4 separate regions of the Homo sapiens genome follow, and all the other regions are linked to region 3. Evidence: fine-mapped expression QTL. A gene starts in region 3. Each other region holds a variant in brackets. All regions are shown on one strand. Distances are from middle to middle.

Region 1 (5,153 bases), 210 kb after region 3:
AATGGAAGCAAAGTCGTAGGACAGAGTACAGAAAAGCATGGTGACAGGAGTTTCTTGTCTGTCTCTAAGGAAGTAGGATGGGATGGAGAGTCAATTCAATTTAGACAGAAGCTGAAGATCAAACAACAGAACATTTTAGCTTCTATTTTAACTATGTATTTTACAGCTGGATTCCAAAGAAGATAAATAAATTATATTTGCACCTATCATCTTTTCAAATATCTTTGCCAACAAAGTCATTCAATATATTGAGTGTCCCTGTGGTCAAGATCTTACACATTTAATGTATGAAAGAGGAGAGACAAGGCCCTGCAGCAGAAAATCTCACAATTTGAGGGAGAAGAAATGGGAGCAAGGAGTTGTTTAAGAAAGACAAAATACATACAAAGTAATGTGTCCGCAAGTGGGAGCCATGATAGCTGTGGGTGTGGAGTTGCCACATGATGATGTTCCATGGCTGGCTGCCTGATCAAGCGGAGCCTCAAAGGTCATCTGTGGCTTGGTAGAGGCCTGGGTCCAGATCGGGCCCTTAACTTTTAAGTTTCAGAAACCCCATGTTGTAATCAGCCCACACAACGTTGACCAGGCCTCAAGGAATGGACTCTTGCCAACCAAACTCCCATAGTAGACTGACGGGAAAACCAGCATGCCAGTTGAAGTAATGTACCATCAGAGACACACCTTTCTAATTACTATGCAGGGGACCCCTTTCTGCTGTGTACCAGAAAAACTGAATTAGCATTTAGAAAACTACTTGTTAAACAGGAATCAGGGTAAAAGAAGTCTTCAGGAGTGTGTGGCTCAGATCGTTGGTACAGTCTGGAACATTTTTGCCATTCCCTGACACCCCTGGGGAAACACTAGCTAGATTCTTACTCTTCACCTCTCTTCTTCTAGGCTCCTTACAGACTCTTTCATGCCTTTAATTATCTTTACTTCTCATCAAATAACATGACTTATTACAACTTACCTTGTCATTACTTTTTGTAATTTAATCTTCCAATAAACTTTGGGTATCTAATCTTGATGTAGCAAACCATGAAATCCTCAGCAATATGTTTGCAAAACCACCCCAAGGATGGGTTGCATCTGCAAGTGTTTAATCTCAATTTATATTGTGAAGATTCTTATGGCTTCCCCTTCAAATCCCGACACCCTTTGACCTTGTCCCCAAATTCCAGAGGTGCTATTATCCATACAGACATATGTTATAGATTCCAGAAGTGCTAGAAGATTCTGGAAGATAAGAGGAACTGAATTTATATTGCTCTGAAACAGGATGCACAGAAAAGCAAGTCTCACACCACTCCTCTTTCATGTCTGATGCAGCACAAGTGTATAGACAGCTCATCCCTGGAGCTCATGATAACAGAGTTCCTTCTAGCCTACTTCAGTTGTAGTCAGCCCTAGCTACTATAACAAAATACCATAGACTGGGTGGTTTAAACAACACACATTTATTTCTCACAGTCCTGGAGGCTAGAAAATCCAACATCAAGATACCAGCAGATTCTGTTTGGGTGAGGGCTCTTGGCTTGCAGACAGCCACCTTCTCACTGTATCCTCACGTGGTGGGGAGAGTGAGCTCTGGTCTCTTCCTCTTCTTATAAGGACACTAATCCAGTAATGGAGGTCCCACCTTCATGCTCTCATTTAAATCTGCCAGAGGCACCACCTCCTAATAAATACCATCACACTGGGGGTTAGGGCTTCAGTATATGAATGGCAGGGGCACATTCAGTCCATAGCAAATGCCCACCAGGTTCTGCTATACCAGATATTTTCTATTAAGTGGAGAAACTGTAGATAGTTTTCTTTTTTTTTTTTTTTTTTTTTTTTTGAGACGGAGTCTCGCTCTGTCGCCCAGGCCGGACTGCGGACTGCAGTGGCGCAATCTCGGCTCACTGCAAGCTCTGCTTCCCGGGTTCACGCCATTCT[C/T]CTGCCTCAGCCTCCCGAGTAGCTGGGACTACAGGCGCCCGCCACCGCGCCTGGCTAATTTTTTGTATTTTTAGTAGAGACGGGGTTTCACCTTGTTAGCCAGGATGGTCTCGATCTCCTGACCTCATGATCCACCCGCCTCGGCCTCCCAAAGTGCTGGGATTACAGGCGTGAGCCACCGCGCCTGGCCAACCGTAGATAGTTTTCAGTACACATACAACCATTTTGGTTTTGGGGGCCCAAACAAAAGGTGGTACAGAAAGTTTGTTTTCTAACCAGCTTATTAAATGAGTTTCAAGTACAGAGTAAAGAAAATTAATGTAACTAAATCTTGGGACATGATTTTACTGAGGATTGTCCAGGGTCTTTTGAGGCCGCAATTAGAGATGAGACCAGACCTTTCCATTCCTCATCTGCTCTGCTGGACTCCAGAGCACTGCCTTCCTCCAAAAAGGAAAATTAGAAACAAATTCTCAAGTGGTTTGATAGTAATTCAGCCCAGCAAATTTTACTTTCCATTAAAAGTCACCAGCTGTCATGTGCTTAGCTTTAAATGGAAATAACTTGCTCTCAAAAAACATTTTTCAGTTGATGTCACTTGTGAGTTTTATTTTCTCCTAATGAAAAATGGATTTGCATTAGTGCAACTTTGGGGACAGGAAACCCCTGGATGGAGGCCTGAGCTGGTGATCTGCCCCTGCCCTGAGGAAAGCTAATTACCGGCCGGCCAGCGTGGAAGATTGATGCTGCGGTCAGGAGGGGACTTTGGGGAACAGAGGGGAGGAGTGTTGATAATGGTCTGTCTTCTTTGCAGTGAGAGTCCCCACGGTGCTTCTTCCTTTAAAAAAAAAAGAAAAGAAAAGAAACGTAAAAAATGCTTTTAAGTGTTGAGATTTTGGAGAGGGCAGTGAATATTTTAACACGATTAATGTTTTTTAGGGAGGCAGCCCTTCTCAGCCTCTAATACTCCCGTGCTCAGAGCCTGTCACATCTGAGGCCTCATCCCTACAGAGCTCTCTGTGGAAGAAGACTCTCTGTGGCCCTCCACTGTGTTCAGGTGCCTCCCAGAATCTCTTGTCGGTGACAGCTGGAATGATCTCTTCATGACCCTCAAGAACAAAACAAAGAGAATCTCTCGACTGAAGCTCCTTGAAGGCTGAACTAGTCCCTTACGCAGTCCTGCCTCTGTGGCACCTCACAGGAGAGCCAGGACACTCAGGAGCCCCCTGCAGTGGTCCTGGCAGACAGAGGAGGCAGGAGGGCAACGCCTAGAACCCTCGGCTTTCCCTACTGGGAGCCCCTGGTCAGGGTGGGCAGAGCAGACTCTTGAAGAGTCATTCCAGCAGGGGCCTGACCCACTGAAAAGAATGAATGGAGAGACCAGAGACACTGGGAGCTGGTGGAACTGGGAAACAGAGAAAGGGAGAAGCCAACAGCCACAACATTCACAGGCCCCCAGACTGAAAGCTGGCAGTGTACTTAAAACCGTGTCCTTAAGTGGGCTGTCTTGCCTCACCGGTCCCCTACATACATGCACACGCATGCACATGCACACACACACAGGCATCACACACCCACCTCTGGGGCACTGTCCATGAATACAGCAGCACTCAAACCTGGGGCTATACCCAAGTGCCATCCCAGCCTAGGCAAAGCTTCCCTCAACCCCCTGTCTCCATGCTCACAGAAAGGGCTTAGAAGTGTCCAAGAATTTTTGAATAATGTTCTTGACAGACACCAAAGCTTTTTCCTCCTCCAGAGCGTGGAGGGCTGGGGCTGCCCCCAGGGAAGTCTCCCCTGGCAGCTCCTGTCTGAGCAGCTGGGGCCAGCTCCAGGAACACTAAATTCTGGCTGCGTTTCCAGTCAAGGCCGGGTTACTTTAGAATCCCTCTTCTCCCCCCTTGTCTTTTCAAGCAGGAGCCAGCCAAGGTATTCGTCATGTTTCCGAGCTACCCTGCTGCTTGATTTATGTGCACGCAGGGCTGGGACGAAGATGCCAGAGCGGGGTGAAGGCTAACCCCGAGGGTGAGGGGAAGTGGGGTGCTGGACTCTCCCGTCACCCCAGGGGCCACTGAAAGGGTCCCTGGTTTTTGTATCAACTGTGTTCAGCTCAAGGTTGGAGACCATGTGGACGCCACAGCCCCGGGAGCAGAGGAACAGAGACAACATGCTCTCCAGCTCTCTTGCTCTTGCTCTCTTTTTTGTGTCTCACACTGTGAGATCTTGGCCATAAAAGGAATGAAGCTTTGCTTGCCCTCTCACTGGGCTTCTCCTAAAAGGGCTTTCCGAAAAATTTCCAGCCTTCTCCTTCGGGACACTGGATGTGGTCTCTTTGGCCAAAGAGAAAACGAGTAACAGACGAAGCCCTTGCAGATGAGGAGGCCAAAACCGAAATGTTAATCACCTCGAAATATGTGCACTGCTCTCTCCAGTGCCTCGCTTGGCTCTCCTCAGAGGATCTTTGATGGGGGATTTTCCCCCTGGGGGTGGGGGATTTGCCATCAATATTTGGGAACACGTTTGAGGGTCCAACTTGCAATGACAAGATAATTGTCATTCAGTGTCTAACGTGCCTGTTGTGGTGACTCTGAATGGTTGAAATATTGATTGCAGCTCTTGGTTAAACTAATACTCCTACAACACTCCCATAAAAGCTCAAGATGCTGTCATCCAAAATGAATAAAAATGCCTCTTTTTATTCCACTGCATATGAAAACATGAGATCATTGGAATATATTTAGAGTGAGATTTGGCAGCCTATACATGTTTACAATTCTTGGACTCAAAGCTCTAACGTGAATCGGAGGCACTCTTTTTCGTCTTCGCCTTCTTTTCTTTCTCTAAGAAGGTGAATGCTGATTCCAAGAGTTCATAATCCCTTTTCTTCGTATTACCCAAAGTTAACCTTGCTAAGAGACTAATGACATCCTCAGTTCCAATGGCCAGCTAGAAAGCCTGAGCCTTGACGTGTTAATGCAATGATTCAACCACTGACGTGGCTCCTCACCATCCATCACCCAAGGCAAAGCCTCCACTGGGCTTGAGAAGATTATCCAAAAGTCCTGCCGTTTCCTCAAGTCTTTGAACCATGACTGGGTCTGATTCTATTGGATAGAAGTCTGCAATGCCTTAGGGTCAATGACTCTTGTTATTGCATAGATTTTGGTTTCTTTCTGAAGGAAAGCATGGAATCCTTCCTACTCCAGGAGGAAGGC
Region 2 (5,153 bases), 160 kb after region 3:
AACTACTTTAGTGTCCTGTTTTCTGAAATAGCTTCCACTGATAGAAATCATAATCTCTTTCACTGTGAAACTCAGAACTGGATATATTATCCTAAATGAAACTTAAGTACCATATAATAAACTCTGACTTAGGACAGGGACTTACTAGGAATTTTGCAAACAACATTTTTATTTGTATAGATCTTTCTGCTGAAGAGTTCTGTCAGCTGGTTTGTTAGATGGTTAGTTTTAAATAAGGTGTTTTTAGAAATAATTTGCATAATATATTTAATAATACATATGAAAGTTTCTGAATTTAAATGTAAAGTATCAGTGTAAGCTCTAAGTTGAATCATCATTTAGTCATTCATCAAATATCTTTAAATGTGTTCCATGGTTTGGCAACTTTGGGGTAATTGGGGAGATTTTTGTGTTTTTAAATACAACTTTTTAATGTATTTTCCCTTCCTAATATTTCCTAAAATAACCATAAGATCAGCTTTGTATGAAAGAGATAAGAGACTTAACATCTTAATTAAAAATTGCCCTTGGCCAGGCTTGGTGGCTCATGCCTGTAATCCCAGCACTTTGGGAGGCCAAGATGGAAGGATCGCTTGAGCCCAGGAGTTTGAGGCTTAAGTGAGATTCCCTGTCTCTTAAAAAGAAGAAGATTGCTCTTGAAGAAAAGTATATAGGTCAGATTATTTCATAAAAATGTTTTTAGTTTTTTTGTGAGAAAATACACAACTTTAATCTTATTTTGTCAAATGTTAATTAATCATTGTATGTATTTTGTCTTTTTAAAATTCAGGCTTTCATTAAAGATAGAACCAGGGACAAGCACCCCACGTTCTGCTGCTTCCAGAGAAGATTTAGTAGGTCAGTACGTAGTTTTCTCTTGTTACCAAATCTAAATCAGATAACCTAATAAGGAAGAATATACTCCAAAGTAAATAAAAACTTAGTACATCTTATACTGCATGTAAAATTTATTTTGATATTAAAATCTGTCCTTTCTGGGTTTTTTGGTTTTTAATTTAAAAGTTGCTGGCCGGGCAGGGTGGCTCACGCCTGTAATCCCAGCACTTTGGGAGGCCGAGGCGGGCGGATCACAGGGTCAGGAGATCAAGACCATCCTGGCTAACACAGTGAAACCCCGTCTCTGCTAAAAAAATAACAAAAAAATTAGCCGGGTGTGGTGGCGGGCACCTATAGTCCCAGCTACTCAGGAGGCTGAGGCAGCAGAATGGCGTGAACCCGGGAGGCAGAGCTTGCAATGAGCCGAGATCGTGCCACTGCACTCCAGCCTGTGTGACACAGCAAGACTCCATCTCAAAAAAAAAAAATGTTGCTATAGTTTGTCAGTAGTGTACAAACAAGTATGCTACCTAATCAAGGAAAATAGATAGATGCAACAGATGGAAAATAATAGATAAGTAGTTATGAATATTCATTTTTGATTAAGAATGCACTGTCCTAGGCAATGAAGGTTGATTACACTAGAAATTTCTGTGGTCTAATGGGAAAGTCTACTAATTTGAATAATTATAGAAGTCAATTTTAGTGACGTAATTTTTTCAAATGTTCACTTTAATACTAGACCAAGTATTAAAAATGTAAAAATCATAGTTCCTTACTTTACCTGTTACATTGTAATGGGGATATTATGCATATACCACAAATAATTTTTTAAAAAACATAAAATTATCATTATTTAAGAAATCCCTGATAAGTACCTTTTTTAAAATTCCCAATATAGGCCTTCGCACTAAGTTTCATGTATATTCTAAAAATATTTGATGGCTAATCTGATAAGATGTGAAGTGGAGAAACAAACCATGACAATGTCTATGGGGAAGAATATTCCAAGCAGAAAAAACATTGCAGTTTAAATTTCTTAAATTTGCTTTTCTTTTTATTCTTAAAGTGCTGTTTTGCACTTTTATAATATTCTTTTATTTATTCCCATAAGCCTGAACAGTGTCAGTGTAGATTTAATTTCTGATTTGAGTGTTTGACCTACCCTACACATTCTTTATCTAAGAGGAAGTTGAAACTAGGAGTAAAGAAGTAATGTATAAAATTAAAAGAGCACTGAACCTAGGACTCAGAAGACCTGTGTGTTTAGTCCAGATTTTGTCTGTGATGTGAAAGCTAGTCTCTTCTAATTCTACTTCTTCCTATGTAAATGGAGAAAATATTTACACTGCCTCTACTTAGTATAAGTAAGATAAAAATTAATGGATTTTGTATGGTTTGGGATTTTGTGTTTTAGGACTTAGATATATTTCTCATCTTCAAGCCAATTAAATAGAACTAACATCAGTACTATCTCAAAATTTGAACCACATTTAATATTTTCTTTCAAGGGACTGAAAAATAAAGTAATCATTTGAAAATCTCTTTAAATTTAACCCTTAGGTCCTGAAGTAGGAGCGTCTCCACAGAGTGGACGAAAAAGTGTGGCAGCTGAAGGAGCCTTGCTCCCACAGACACCGCCATCCCCTCGGAATCTGATTCCACATGGACATAGGAAGTGC[C/T]ATAGTTTGGGTTATAAGTCAGCATTTTTAATTTTATCTTTCAAATTTTTAAGTCTTTTGTAATTGGATTTATTGTCGATTTATTAGTTCAGTAGAAAATGGTATCCTTGAATAGTTTTCTTTTTTCTTAATAGCTGTTTTCTGATTCAGTAAAATGCCTTGTTTGCCTAAAAGCTTTTATTTCTTACTTTACCTGAATTTGGAAATGGGATTTTGTCAACAATGCATTTATATTTGGGGACGATAAATGAACATTACAGAGGGCCATCATAAATAAAATCAGGATAGCAATATACCTTTTTAAAAGAGTTACAACCTTTATATCAAGACAGTCATTGTTTGTCTTAACCAAAATAAGTCAAAAATAACAGCTATAAAAATTATTTTCTTTATTCCTAAATATAAAGAAAACTGACTTTTTGTTTAACTTCATTAGTTTTGCAGTATTGTTTTTTCAAAATGGGGACACATGTTCACTTTTGCCATGATTTCTCTGGAAATGTAATAACTGTTCTCCAAAAGTGAATGTGGAAACAATTTTTTAAACGGACACGAGGCTTAAAATGAAATTATTTTAAAGTATGCTCTAATTATATAGATAGATAGGGCCAGGTTTCCTAAAACATTTTCCCTAAACTGTTCATTTGAGGCTTTTATGGTAAGATCTGAGTATGACAGTTAGGTAAATCTTTTATGTCCTAAATCTTTATATAAAGAGCAGTTTTTAAATTAGTAACAATAATAAAAGATATGAACTTTTTTTTCTGTTTCTAGTTTCATTCATAAAATGAACACAGCAGAATTTAAGAGTGCAACGTTTCCAAATGCAGGACCAAGACATCTGTTAGATGATAGCGTCATGGAGCCCCATGCGCCATCTCGAGGCCAAGCTGAAAGTTCTACTCTTTCTAGTGGAATATCAATAGGTGAGAAATACTTCTCTGAGAGGGTTGCAATTTAACTTTAAATAAAAATGTTAATAAAACTTGGCTGGAAAAAAACCCCACCCACACACAGAGAAAATTTGGTTAAAAAAACAAAGTAGCAGTTAAATATGGGATGAAGTTAATAATTTGTGATGGTTTTAAAAGTGCTTGCTGTTTTTAACTCCAGAAGGGGAAGCATTTGAAGAAGGTGGAAAAAGAACATATGGGCTGGTTGAATTAGTTAACTGCATGTGATTTGGATATGGGGAGGAGGAAGAGTGTGGAGTCAAGAATGACTTCCGGTTATTTGGGTTAAACAAGTATAATAGTTAGATGATGATGCTATTACCAAGGTAGAGAAGACAGAGTAATAATCTGTGGGCAGTGAAGCGTTTGTGAATTTGGGGAATCAGGTGTGTTTTGGACATGTTTAGTCCCTATGGAGATGTCAGGTAGGTTGTTGAATATGTGAATCTGGAGCTCGGGGATAAGGTCAGATCTGAAGATATACGAGAGGTAGCATATTTATAAGCCATGATTGGTTGAGGGTACCTAAAGAGAGAGTGTACATAAATAAAAAAACATTCTCACATTTAGAAGTCTGATTATTTTTTAAAAGAAGGATGAGTCATCAAAGGAAACTAAAAAGGAGAGATCAGTGAAGTAAGGGGAAAAAAACAAAAGCCCAGTAGATGAAGTATCTCAAGGAGGAGGAAAGTACTGAATGTGTGAATATCAAATGCAGAACAAGAGAGCTAAGATGAGAATGGGGAATTGACTGGGGGATTTGGCAAGATAAAAGTCATTGGTGACCTTGATAAGAGTTGCTTCATGGAAGTGTCAGGGCATGGCCTGGATTGGAGTAGATTTGAAAATGAGAGGTGAGGAAACAGAGATAGCTACTGTGAAGGAGAGCAGAAAATAGAGACCATATTAGAAAGGGATGTGAGATTAAGAGAGGGATTTGTTTGTTTTTACTTCCTAAACTTTTAATTTTTGAGTCTTCTAGATGAGCATTATTTCTTGTTACAATTAGAAATTATTCATATAGCCTGGGCAGTGTGGCTCACACCTGTAATCCCAGCACTTTGGGAGGCCCAGATGGGCAGATCTCTTGAGGTCAGGAGTTCAAAATGAGCCTGGCCAACATGGCAAAACCCCATCTCTACTAAAAATACAAAAAGTAGCAGGGCGTGGTGGTGCATGCCTGTAATCCCAGCTACTTAGGAGGCTGAGGCATAGGAATCATTTGAACCCAGGAAACAGAGGTTGCAGCGAGCCATGTTCGCAGCACTGCACTACCCTGCCTGGATCACAGAGCGAGATTCTGTCTCAAAAAAAGAAAGAAATTGTTCATATAATAGCTACTTTTATTTTTAAAAAGAAATAAAGGAGGAATATGTCTTCATCTATGATTAACTACCAGATTGTTCAAGGACTAAGCCTATTGTTACTAATATCTTAATATTGGTAAACAGCCAGTAGAAGGAGATGCAAAAGGAGATTGATTTTCTGGAACATACTGACTTTCTTAGCCCTTGAGAGTTAAAATTAAATTATTTCAGAGCTCTCCATTACCATTCAGTAGTTGTTTATTCTGATAGTCCCCTTTTTATATAAAAATACAAGTGATTAAATGATAAAATGTTTTAAAAAGAAGGCAAGTTTGTCACCTGAAATACCTCTTATCAATGTTCTAAGTTGCCTA
Region 3 (5,153 bases):
TTACAGGTGCCCACAACCACGCCCGGCTAATTTTTTTGTATTTTTAGTAGCGACCAGCTTCACCATGTTGGTCAGGCTGGTCTTGCACTCCTGACCTCAGGTGATCTGCCTGCCTCAGCCTCCCAAAGTGTTGGGATTACAAGTGTGAGCCACCACGCCCGGCCTATATACAAATTCTTAATCTTACCAAGTTCACAAATTTGAACTTAACACAACTCTTAAGGTTAATAAAAGTATTGTTTTATAAGTTATCAATGTGAGAAACAGATTTGGGGTAATTATTCAAACTCAAATTCAGTAGGCATAAGAATTTAGTGTATCCATGGCCTTGCTCATGAGTCATATGTTTTTTTCTTTTCAAAGTCCAAGTGAAAACTTCACTGCTTTTACAATAAGCTGTGAAAATTATTGGCAGATGTAGGGACCCTGCCTCATTTATATCTATGAAACCCTAATTCAAGTTTCAAGTAATTGTATGACATTTAACAACATAAGAGTTCCGTTCCTCAGTTTTCATATTTCTTAAGAGCAGTTAATTATGTGTGATAATGGTATGTATGTTGCATGTATTATTGTTGGCATATAGCCAACGACATTTTCCTTAATCTCTTAGTAACACTTTAAGAAGACTAAACATTTACCCAACTCAATAACTGGAAGGGGTTTTTCCTCCAAGTGCTAATTCATTTAGTTGTTGTTTATTTGGGACTTGAAGCAACTAACATCTATGCGAAAACTTTCTGTATACATAATGCACTTCCCTCCTTTTTACCAATCATCTTCCTTTTTCTTTTCTTTTTTGGACTCTTGTCATTTGAAATATTGGGTGGGGGGGAACGCTTTTTTTCTTCTTTTGATTGCTCTACTTCTTCTAGTGATTTCGTCATGATTCAAGACTTTCTTTGAAAGTAAAATGGAATAAAAATGAAACACTACGAACTTTGTTGCCTATCCTCGCTGTTTTTCTTTTTGACTTAACTTTGCGTTGGGGTGCTTTAAAGTAACCCTATTTGAGAGAAGGAGGTTGAAGGGCATTCTAGCGTCCCCAACTAGAGTAAAAGGGCTATGACAGAAGGCAATCAAAGGAGGAAATAATTAGCAATCTTCAACGTTCAAGATTAATCAGTTCTGTTTAGCGGTTATTAAAGGGAAGAAAGAAACCAAATGGGAATAGTGAATTATTGGTCCTTTCATGTTTTACACTTAATGCTGGTACATAGTATTCTTTCCACATTCTACTGCACATTGCCTAGAGAAAGAACTGCAGATCATCAAATAATTATCCATTTCCAAATGGTCTAATGACAGCAGATACAAAGGCGGCTCACTTAAAACCTTCCGTTAACAGTCACACTGCATCAAATGGTGCTAGCTTTAAGTAGGCCACCCATTTAGTAGACTCTGAAACAACACCTTTCCGCCCAATTTCTGTCATTTGCTCCTTAAGTCAAGGGTAGTACCCTGCGTAACATCTTACAAAGGCCTACTTCTAACACTTCCCGAATCTTAATGTGTGAGGATGTTGATCACCATAATTTATGACCTTATCTAAGACAGTGGGGTGACTCTCCACATTGGGAGCCCCCTCATTTGTCCTCAGTGACTTCTAAAAACACCGCTGGCGTGGGCTGGATATTTGATCTTGGGGCCAAGTGCTTCCAGACTTTGTTCTCTGGCCTTAAAGGTGAAGAGCCCGGCGCTGAAGGCCACAGACATCACGGCGGATTTCACAGAGGGCCGCGTTCCGGGAGCGGGTGGCCAGGCGGTGGCGGACGCCCCACCTGTCCATCCTCCTACCCCTTCCCCCCCCCGTTGTTTGGCCGGTGGGAGCCCCTCCTTTCAGCAGGCGCCGGGCGGTGGGGTTGCGGATGGCTGCGCGCGCTGCGGGCACCGATCACCGGCGGCAGTTGGGCTCCGCGGGGCCGAAAAGCTGCGGGCGGGAAGCGCGAGGTTAAGACCCTGACGGCTGCAGCTCTCAGAGCCCCCGCGAGCGCGCTCCGTTGGTGCGCGCGCGCGCGCGGCTCCGCCCCGCCCGCTTGGCGCGCGCCCCCGCCAGGTCCGCTCTCGTCCCCCACCCCTGGCGCGGACGGGGTGGTTCCAGCTCACTCTCCTCCCCCGAGCGGCAGCGGCGGCGGCGGCGGCGGCTGCTGCGGGCGCTGAATGAGAGACGGTGACTGTTCGGGTCGACGAGTGCTACTCTAGGCGGCGGCGGCCGTGGCGGTGAAGCGTGAGGCCGGCATCGTCTTTCCGTCCTCTGAGGCGACGGCCGCGGCTGCACAGGTCGGTGGGCTCAGGCCGCGGGGCGGTGCGGGGGAGGGAGGGAGGGAGGGTGGGTACGCGGCGCCCCCCGGGCGGCGCGGGGAATGGCGGCGGCGGCGCTGCGGAGTGTGGCTCTCCCGGCCGCGGGCCCCGGGGCTGCTCGCCCTGCGCGCAGGGAGGGGGCTGCGGAGCTGGGGCTGAGGCTGAGGGAGAAGGGCGCTGGGCGGCGCGCCTCCCTCGGCCGCGGGTTCTCAGAGTCGGAGCGGCCGTGGGGTCCCCGCTCGGGGGCGCCGTCCTGAAGCCGGGGGCGCTGCGACCCCTTGAACCCGCCTCGCTCTCCCTCTTGGGTGGCGGAAGCCCCCAGCCTCCGCCCGCTCTGTTCTGGCGCCCAGCGGCGCCTCAGTCTTCCTTCAGGTGAGCCCGATCCCGGACCTCGGAGCCAGGACCAGCAGAAGCCGGGCCACACCCCCTCCCCTGGCCCTGGCGGCTGCGCCCAGAAGCCTGGCCGCAGAGTTGGCCGCCCGCGAACCCGCGGAGTCGCGGTCAGGGTGACCTGTTGCAGAGCGGCCCGCAGCCCGAGCGGCCCCCGCCAGCCCCGGCCCCGGAGGGGCTGCGTCCTGTGCTGGCCTCGGGCCGGGCGCGCGGGCCGGGTGTGGGGCAGGGGCCGCAGCCCCAGGTCGGCTTGCTCTACGGCCTGGAACCGGGCTCTAGAAAAAAAAGGAGATTCCGAACGTATCTCATCAAACACTTGCAAAGCCGGGAGATCTGTCTGCAAATATCCGGAATTCCATTGCAGTATCGGATTAGGTAGGCTCATAAACACCGTGCTTTTGAGGTGATTTGGAAGAAACGCGAGCCACGAGCGAGGAACTAGTTTCTGGAAAATAGCCGTAAACCTGTGCGGAGCGAATTATTAACCCCCCGCCCCAGCTCCCCCCTCGAAGCTCTTTTCCTGTAGCTGTGTGTTGTGTAGACGCAAGCCAGTTTCAGTGTACGTGGGCGTGTTTGGGAAGAAGCTGCGAGCTGATAGGAGGTACCTAGTACAAATGTTAATTTGTTTGAGTTGGGAGGGGTAAGGGAGGAGGAAGAAAGGGCACTGATGTTAGCTGTGGAGGAGGGGCAATTGAAATACTAAATTTCTGTTAAAAAAAAAAAACCCCAAAAGAAATATCTAATGCCTACTGTGTATTTAAGACCATAAAGTGGAATCACACAAGCAGCAGTTAATTGAGCTTTATCGTTTATGCTCCCTGGATTTTTTTTCCCCAACACTTTAGTTGCTATAGAGAGCCTTTTCTTACCAGTGTTCATGAGTTGACTTGGGTATTTTTCTGTGTCCACCATTAGATCGATTCCTGTTCAAGTTTCTTTGAAGATGACCATCAGAATTTTAGGAAACTTTTCAGCCCGTGTTTGCAGAGTATCGCTGTTAGACAGATCATAGCTTGCTCATTATAAAGCCTGTTCCACTCAAGATCATTATGCTTGTACAAGTGCTATAGAACAAGTGCTATAGAATCATACACATAAGTGTATTACTCTTACGGCTAAATATCTTAATTTAGAATTATGAGGAAACTTCCAAAACTGAGCATCCAAACAGTATTATTTTAACAAAGATAACCTCTAACTCAAGCTTTGTAGGCATGAAGTTTATCATGTAGCTTCAAAGGTCTTTTGAGGCAGATCTAAATATCAAAATGTAAGGGCATTAATGCCATTTGGGATAAACAATTTCAGTGTATTTATTTTAAGCGTAGTTCATTTTTTCTTTTTAAAATTCAGCATAATTTTTGAACGGTAAGATGTGCGTTTTTCCCATTATATTCCACTTTTTTTTTTTTCCTTTTAAGATAGGTTCTCCTTATTTGGCTCAGGCTGGTCTCAGACTCCTGAGCTCAAGCGATCCTCCCGTGTCAGGCTCCCAAGAAGCTGGGACTACAGGCATGCGCCACTGTGCGTTATTTCACTTTTCATTGAATTAAGGAATTTGACTTTTAGTAATACTTTGGGGCAGGACTCTGGAAATACTGTTTAGTTTGCCTAAATTTTTTCAGATTGCAACGTAAGTTTGAAGATAATGCTTGCATTGGCAGAACACAACGTGCTTTTCTAATATTTATTAGTAATACTAGAAAGAATACAACAAATTTTCCTGAGAGAAAACATAACTGAAAAACTGGCTTTGTGAGTCAGATACATATGTGAGTAATATATTTTTGTGTGTGTTTTTAAATACCTGGTACGAGTCTTTTTATTACGTCATTAGAGTTCAGTGTAGTGAATGATGGATATATAGGTGAAATTGTCCTGTTGCAACTTAAAACACTTAAGCTTTTTCCAGAGACTCAGTTCATTCTGCACATGTGTATTGGGTACCTACTTGGTGCCAGTTAGTTCCCTAGAGGTTGGGGACACAACAGGGGAGACACAACAGGGCTTATCATTTAAGCCCTGATGGGGCTTAAATGATAAGTGGGCAAATATGTTTGTTTAAAAGTTTAAGAAGTAGAAACTCCTCTGATAACTTTTTGGTTAAGGATATTGTTTTTTTCTTTCTGAGAATTGTGGGAATTATTGCCTAGCGAACAAAAACATTAAGACAATTGTTTTTAGAATATGCCTATGTTTATATACTTTGGGTTTCTGGTTACCAAGTATACCAAAGATAAACATTCTACCTGAAGTCAGATGATGCGTAGTTTACATGTGGTTAGACAGCCTTATTCTTTTGGTTTATGTAGTTAAATGAATGTTTGCTGAAAATATTCTCTCGGCATTTATTTATAAGGGAATCTAAATTTCTTTTTTGGTCTAAAATTTTAAAATATCACCTTTTTATTTCTGGCTGACTGTGAGTGAACCAATTCCTTGATAATCTGCTTTTTCAGAAA
Region 4 (5,153 bases), 23 kb before region 3:
AATGTTTCCATTTTACTGAAGTTTTCAAATCTCTTGGCATGTTCATTGTTCAGGGTATTCTCTCACCTTTTAGTGTCTGCAATATCTACAACATGGCCCCTTTTTCATTCCCAGTATTGTTTATTGATGTTCTCTTTTCTTTTTCTTGATAAGCTACCAGAATTCTGTCCATTTTACTCATCTTTTCAGAAAACTTTGACTTTGTTGATTTTATCTAATGTATTTTTCCCATTAGTTTCTGTTTTCTTAACTGAATTATTTCTTTTTTCTACTTTCCTTGGATCTGTGCTGCTTTAGCTGGGTGTTTGGCTCATTAACTTTCAAACTTTCTTCTTTTGTCTGAGTACTACTGCAGTATTTTCATTATGATTCAATTACAAATATTTTCTCGTTTTCATTATCATCTTTGCTCTCTGAGCTATTTCAAAATGTGTTTGTTAATTTTCAAATGGGTGAGTTTTTACTAGTTATCTCCTTGATATTTATTAGTAATTTAGTTGGACTATATGAAGAGAATGAATAAATATATTGTGTTATCTGGCATAATATAGGTTACTACTATATAATTATATATTAATTGTATTAATTGTGGCTATCTTTGGCTTATTTCTACCATCTTATTTTGTGTTATTTGTCTTGTTTTTTCTTCCACTGTGTTTTTTTCTATCTTTTCTTGTCTTTTTTTAGACTGATTGAATATATCTTTCTCCTCCCATCTGTTTTTTCTTATAATAATTAGGAAGTTATACACTCTAATCTTATTCTTTTAGTGACTAAGGCATTTTAGTCTGCCTACTTGATTTATCAAATTCTAACATTTATCAATACCTTTATTTCCCTCTTAAATAACATAAGAACATTTGAACATTCTATTTCTATTTATCCCTTGACTTATATGTTATTGCAGATGTGCACTTATTCTTTATTGATTTTGAACCCCACAAGGTGTCGTTATAGTTTCATCTAGTTTAGATTTATGTTTACTCACATGTTTACCATGTTTTTGCTCATTTCTTCTTGCATCTCAGACTTTCCATTTGAAATTATGTTACTTTTGCTTGAAATATATTCTTTAGAATTTTCTTCAGTAAATTGGCAAACTCAAATTCTGGAAAGATTTTTTGCTGGCTATACAATTTTAGGTTGAAGATTATTTTCTCTCAACCCAGTGAAGATATGATTTACCACCTTCTGGCTTTCACTGGTGCTGTTTAGTCTAATTTTCATTCCTCTGAAGATAATGTGTCCCGCCCCCTGTCTTTTTTTGAGATCTCTTTCACTTTGCTGTTCTGCAGTTACACTAGATGTGTAAATATGATTTTTTAAATTTTCATTTATCTTACCTAAGATTTTTTAAAACCTCACATAAACATGTGAAAAAGACCAAAATTGAAGAGGTAGTAGGGGGTCAGATTATGAAGGGTTTTGAAAGTCAGGAATTTATTCTGTAGAGCAGTGATCTTTAAGCTTTTAGCTTATGCATATTATATAAGAATTTTGAAAAATGTGTTCTCTTGCACATATTTAAGTTGACATATACAGTTTTCATCATAATTAAATAAGTTTACTTCTTGCTAATAAAAGAGAACATATATTAAATATTTTATAAACTAAAATCAGGTGACAATCAAAATTAGAATACTTTTATGATATGCCTTGAATATATCATATTTGATATATATTTGGATATGGTTATATGCTATTTGAAGTATATTGGTGCACTTATCAAACAAATCATGCCAATTTTAAAATAAATCACATACAATTTTTACTAGTTTTATTAAATGCTTTTAAAATTTTATACTTTAAAATATTATAGTTTCATTTAAAAGAATAAGAATTATTTACCTGTACTGCTTCAAATGTTCTGAATTTATACCATCCCAACATGAAACCAACACTGTTTCTAACTTCAAACTTCACTTTTAACAGAAATATAGGTAAAACATTAAAAGGTAGGAAGACCCATGGATTTAAGGTGCTTTGATTAATCCTTAAGGAGGCCTCCCTGGAACAAAATTGTCATTCCAGTTGGGGCCCTTTCAGGCTGCAATCTTGTCACAAAAGAAGTCTAAACAAACTCTACAAAGTCGCAAAGATTTTAGCTGCTGCCTGTGATACTTTTTCTCCCTGTCTCCCTCCCCTCCACCACCCCTCACTTTTATATATGCAAGCAAGCCTGGATGTGTCACATTTACTTTTTGGAAAGGGACTTACGCAAGACACAAGAATTTTTGCCCACAAACAGCTGCTTCAAAGGCAGAGGGAGTGAGACCTTCTTTTTGGTGCAAAAATGATTAGTTATGGAGAGGTCCCAGTCTTAATTCTATTTGGAGGTGGGTCCAAATGACCTAATAAGCAGATCCTTCTCTGCTCTTTATTGTAGTATTAAACAAGAAACTGACACAAGTTGGGTCATAGAGTTTTTCCACAGGCACATGTAAGCATTCCATGTTGTATTATTGCAATACTGTGAAATTCGTCTTTTTGAGAAAAGCACACACAGATCTTGGCATATTTTACTTGAAAACAATAAT[T/A]GTTACTATTAGTTATTTCCACTTTTTTTTTTTTTCCAAAAAGAGAATATGGGAAGAGTGGTGCTATGGTAACTACAGAGCTATAGAGAAGAATTTGACCAAGGGGATCCTAAAACAAGGTTTAACACATGTTTTATGGTTAAGCATTAACTACCATCGGTTATAGGTTGTATATTTGATATTATATATACTATTAAGTAATTGGAAGAGGTAAAACAATAGTGATTAAGAGTGTAAGCACAAAACCAGAGCTAATAAGGGATAAAACCGAGATTTTTTTTTTTATTTTATTTTTTTGAGGCAGAGTCTCACTGTGTTGTCCAGGCTGGAGTGCAGTGGTGCAATCTCAGCTCACTGCAACCTCTGCCTCCTGGATTCAAGTGATTCTCCTGTCTCAGCCTCCCAAGTAGCTGGGATTTCAGGAGCGCACCACCACGCCAGGCTAATTTTTGTATTGTTAGTAGAGATGGGGTTTCACCATGTTGGCCAGGCTGGTCTCAAACTCCTGACATCAAGTGATCCACCCACCTCAGCCTCCCGAAGTGCTGGGATTACAGGCGTGAGCCGCCATGTCCGGCCAAAACTGAGATTTGAACCCAGACTGCCTGAGTTCAAATCTCAGTTTTATCCCTTATTAGCTCTGTGAACTTGGGTAATTTTCATAACCACTCTGAGCCTTAGTTTTCTCATCAGTGTAGAGGACTAAAATGTTATCTACCCCAGATGATTGTTTTAAGGATTACATCAGTGCCTATTTCCTCACCTGTAAAATGGTCTCTTTCTCTTAAGATTGTGGTGAGGATTAAAAGGGTTATATGTGAACAATGCTTAGCATGAAGGCCTGGCTTATGGTATAACTTCAATAAATTTATTTTGTTAGCAAGTAGAGAAATAAATCTGACTTAACAATATAAAATTAAATGTTTATTTTACTTTTGCATAGCATATTACAACTGAGAATTTGGAGATTTAACACACTCTATTGATAATGAATATGATGAAAGAGAAACAGACAAGGCATTAACTTTGAAGAGAAAATTCGTTGACATTTTTGTATTTCATTGTATAAAATACCAATTAAATGTGATGGAAAATTATAGCAAAGACTTACAAAGACTTCAATGATTTTCAAATTTTTAAATAAAGCATATCTTGATTTTAGTTCTTTGTTCAACTCTATTATGGAAATGTAATGGCAATGCAATTTCTCCTTTCTATCTTATATTAGTTCTCTGGTTTAGCTCTAGCTTGTCGAGTGGAAACATGATATGGCAAGACAATAAATTGCCTATTAAAATCCAATGTTTTTTTAATTATGTAATTACGATTCAGGGTTACATGTTCTAGATTCTGAATGGCATTAAGTTGGGTTTATATAGTATTAAAACAACCAGATTTTAAAAAAAGAGTCAGTCAATTACCTATATATTTGTAAGACACCAAAATTAATATCTTGAAACATCTTTATGATTGAATGAATTTTTCACTTTTTATTTAGACATTTGTCATAGCCAATAAGGCATATGCTAAGTACACAAAGTGATTATCCTAAAGCTGGTTTTGGCTTTTTGAGTTATCCAATGTAAGCTATAATTTGTCTCTTTAATTTCCCTAATTTTCAAGCTGGAGATAACATTGAACATTACAGGAGACAGCTATAGTTTTGATTGCCCAGAGCCATCCAACTTTATTAGAGCATGGCGGGGTTATCAGTCACAGTACTCTGCCATCTACTCCCCACATCATGGTGACAAATAAATAAACTAGACCTGGCTAATCAAAGAAATCCAGCTCCTCATGTCAAGTGATTGGCTCAGGGGTGGACACACAACCCCAAATAAGCCAATCAAAGCCCTTCACTGGTACTTTTCAGCTGGAGCTAGGGTGGAAGCCTGTCCTCATTTTGAGATTTATGGGCTGAAAGGATGTGTATCTGGGGTGCTATCTTCTCATCTGTAGAAATAGATGAGGTCAACACACCAACAGAAGATCTGAAAGATGGAAAGAGGGGGCTTAATTATATTGCTTGGGTCCCTAGATTTAGTTCATGTCTGACATTGTGTCCTTACATCCCAATACACATGTGTGTTTTACAGATAGTTTGAATTGGTTCATGGCACTTGCAACTGAAGGAGTTCTGATAAGTACAGACATCTTTCTAATTTGTTTACAGCTGTAACAATTAACTGTGAAAGTCAATACATTTACAATGAAGTATGTTAAAAACATTGTCCAAGTGTGACTTGAACCCAGGCAGGATAACACAGCAGTTAAGAGTCCAGGCTCTGGAGTGGAACTGTCTGCTTGCCTGCCTACTAAAAAACACCTGGGTCTGAGAAGCTTTTGTCTCTCTAGAGAGGATACATGCTGTCTGGTTGCCACAGAGAGAGCCTCAGCACACCAAGGCACCCGAGCTGATTTCCAGTTACTATTGGCACTGACACTGCTGCCAGTCTTATAGGTCTTTTATGAGAAATGTCAACCTTTTCTTGTATCTGTTTCAAAACTGGGAAGAGAAAGGTAGAATGAGAGAATCAAGAAACATAGGAGATAACTTTTTTCTGTGGATGGGAAGAACATTCCTATAGGTTGTGCCTATGAGGAAAGAATCCAATC

Direction of the effects. Alleles are on the strand shown, and positions count from the first base shown. SD is a standard deviation of normalised expression in the study named. Not every link is listed here.
For the expression in skeletal muscle of the gene that starts at base 2,105 in region 3, T is the low allele of the variant in region 4 and A is the other (moderate effect, 0.44 SD a copy in GTEx).

Evidence for each region.
Region 1: its variant is fine-mapped to the expression of RALGPS2 in whole blood (TOPMed, PIP above 0.99).
Region 2: its variant is fine-mapped to the expression of RALGPS2 in whole blood (TOPMed, PIP above 0.99).
Region 4: its variant is fine-mapped to the expression of RALGPS2 in skeletal muscle (GTEx, PIP above 0.99).

The regions. Positions count from the first base shown.
Region 1 is chr1:178,935,301-178,940,453 of GRCh38, forward strand. LOC102724754 (a long non-coding RNA gene) reads right to left here and starts at 3,771. Exons shown (of 3, transcript XR_426873.4): 1 at 3,517-3,771; 2 at 2,659-2,776; 3 at 1,599-1,678. RefSeq lists an enhancer at 3,870-4,369. The variant C/T (reference allele first, on the strand shown) is at 1,939.
Region 2 is chr1:178,882,676-178,887,828 of GRCh38, forward strand. It overlaps RALGPS2 (Ral GEF with PH domain and SH3 binding motif 2), which reads left to right. Exons shown (of 20, transcript NM_152663.5): 11 at 791-858; 12 at 2,401-2,536; 13 at 3,294-3,445. Among named protein-coding and RNA genes, the nearest start is that of ANGPTL1, 14 kb to the left of the region's middle. The variant C/T (reference allele first, on the strand shown) is at 2,520.
Region 3 is chr1:178,723,140-178,728,292 of GRCh38, forward strand. It overlaps RALGPS2 (Ral GEF with PH domain and SH3 binding motif 2), which reads left to right and starts at 2,105. Exons shown (of 20, transcript NM_152663.5): 1 at 2,105-2,280. RALGPS2-AS1 (RALGPS2 antisense RNA 1) reads right to left here and starts at 3,145. Exons shown (of 1, transcript NR_187252.1): 1 at 1-3,145. RefSeq lists silencers at 1,879-2,033, 1,935-2,104, 2,365-2,484, 2,685-2,914 and an enhancer at 2,455-3,044.
Region 4 is chr1:178,700,134-178,705,286 of GRCh38, forward strand. No RefSeq gene overlaps it. Among named protein-coding and RNA genes, the nearest start is that of RALGPS2, 23 kb to the right of the region's middle. The variant T/A (reference allele first, on the strand shown) is at 2,538.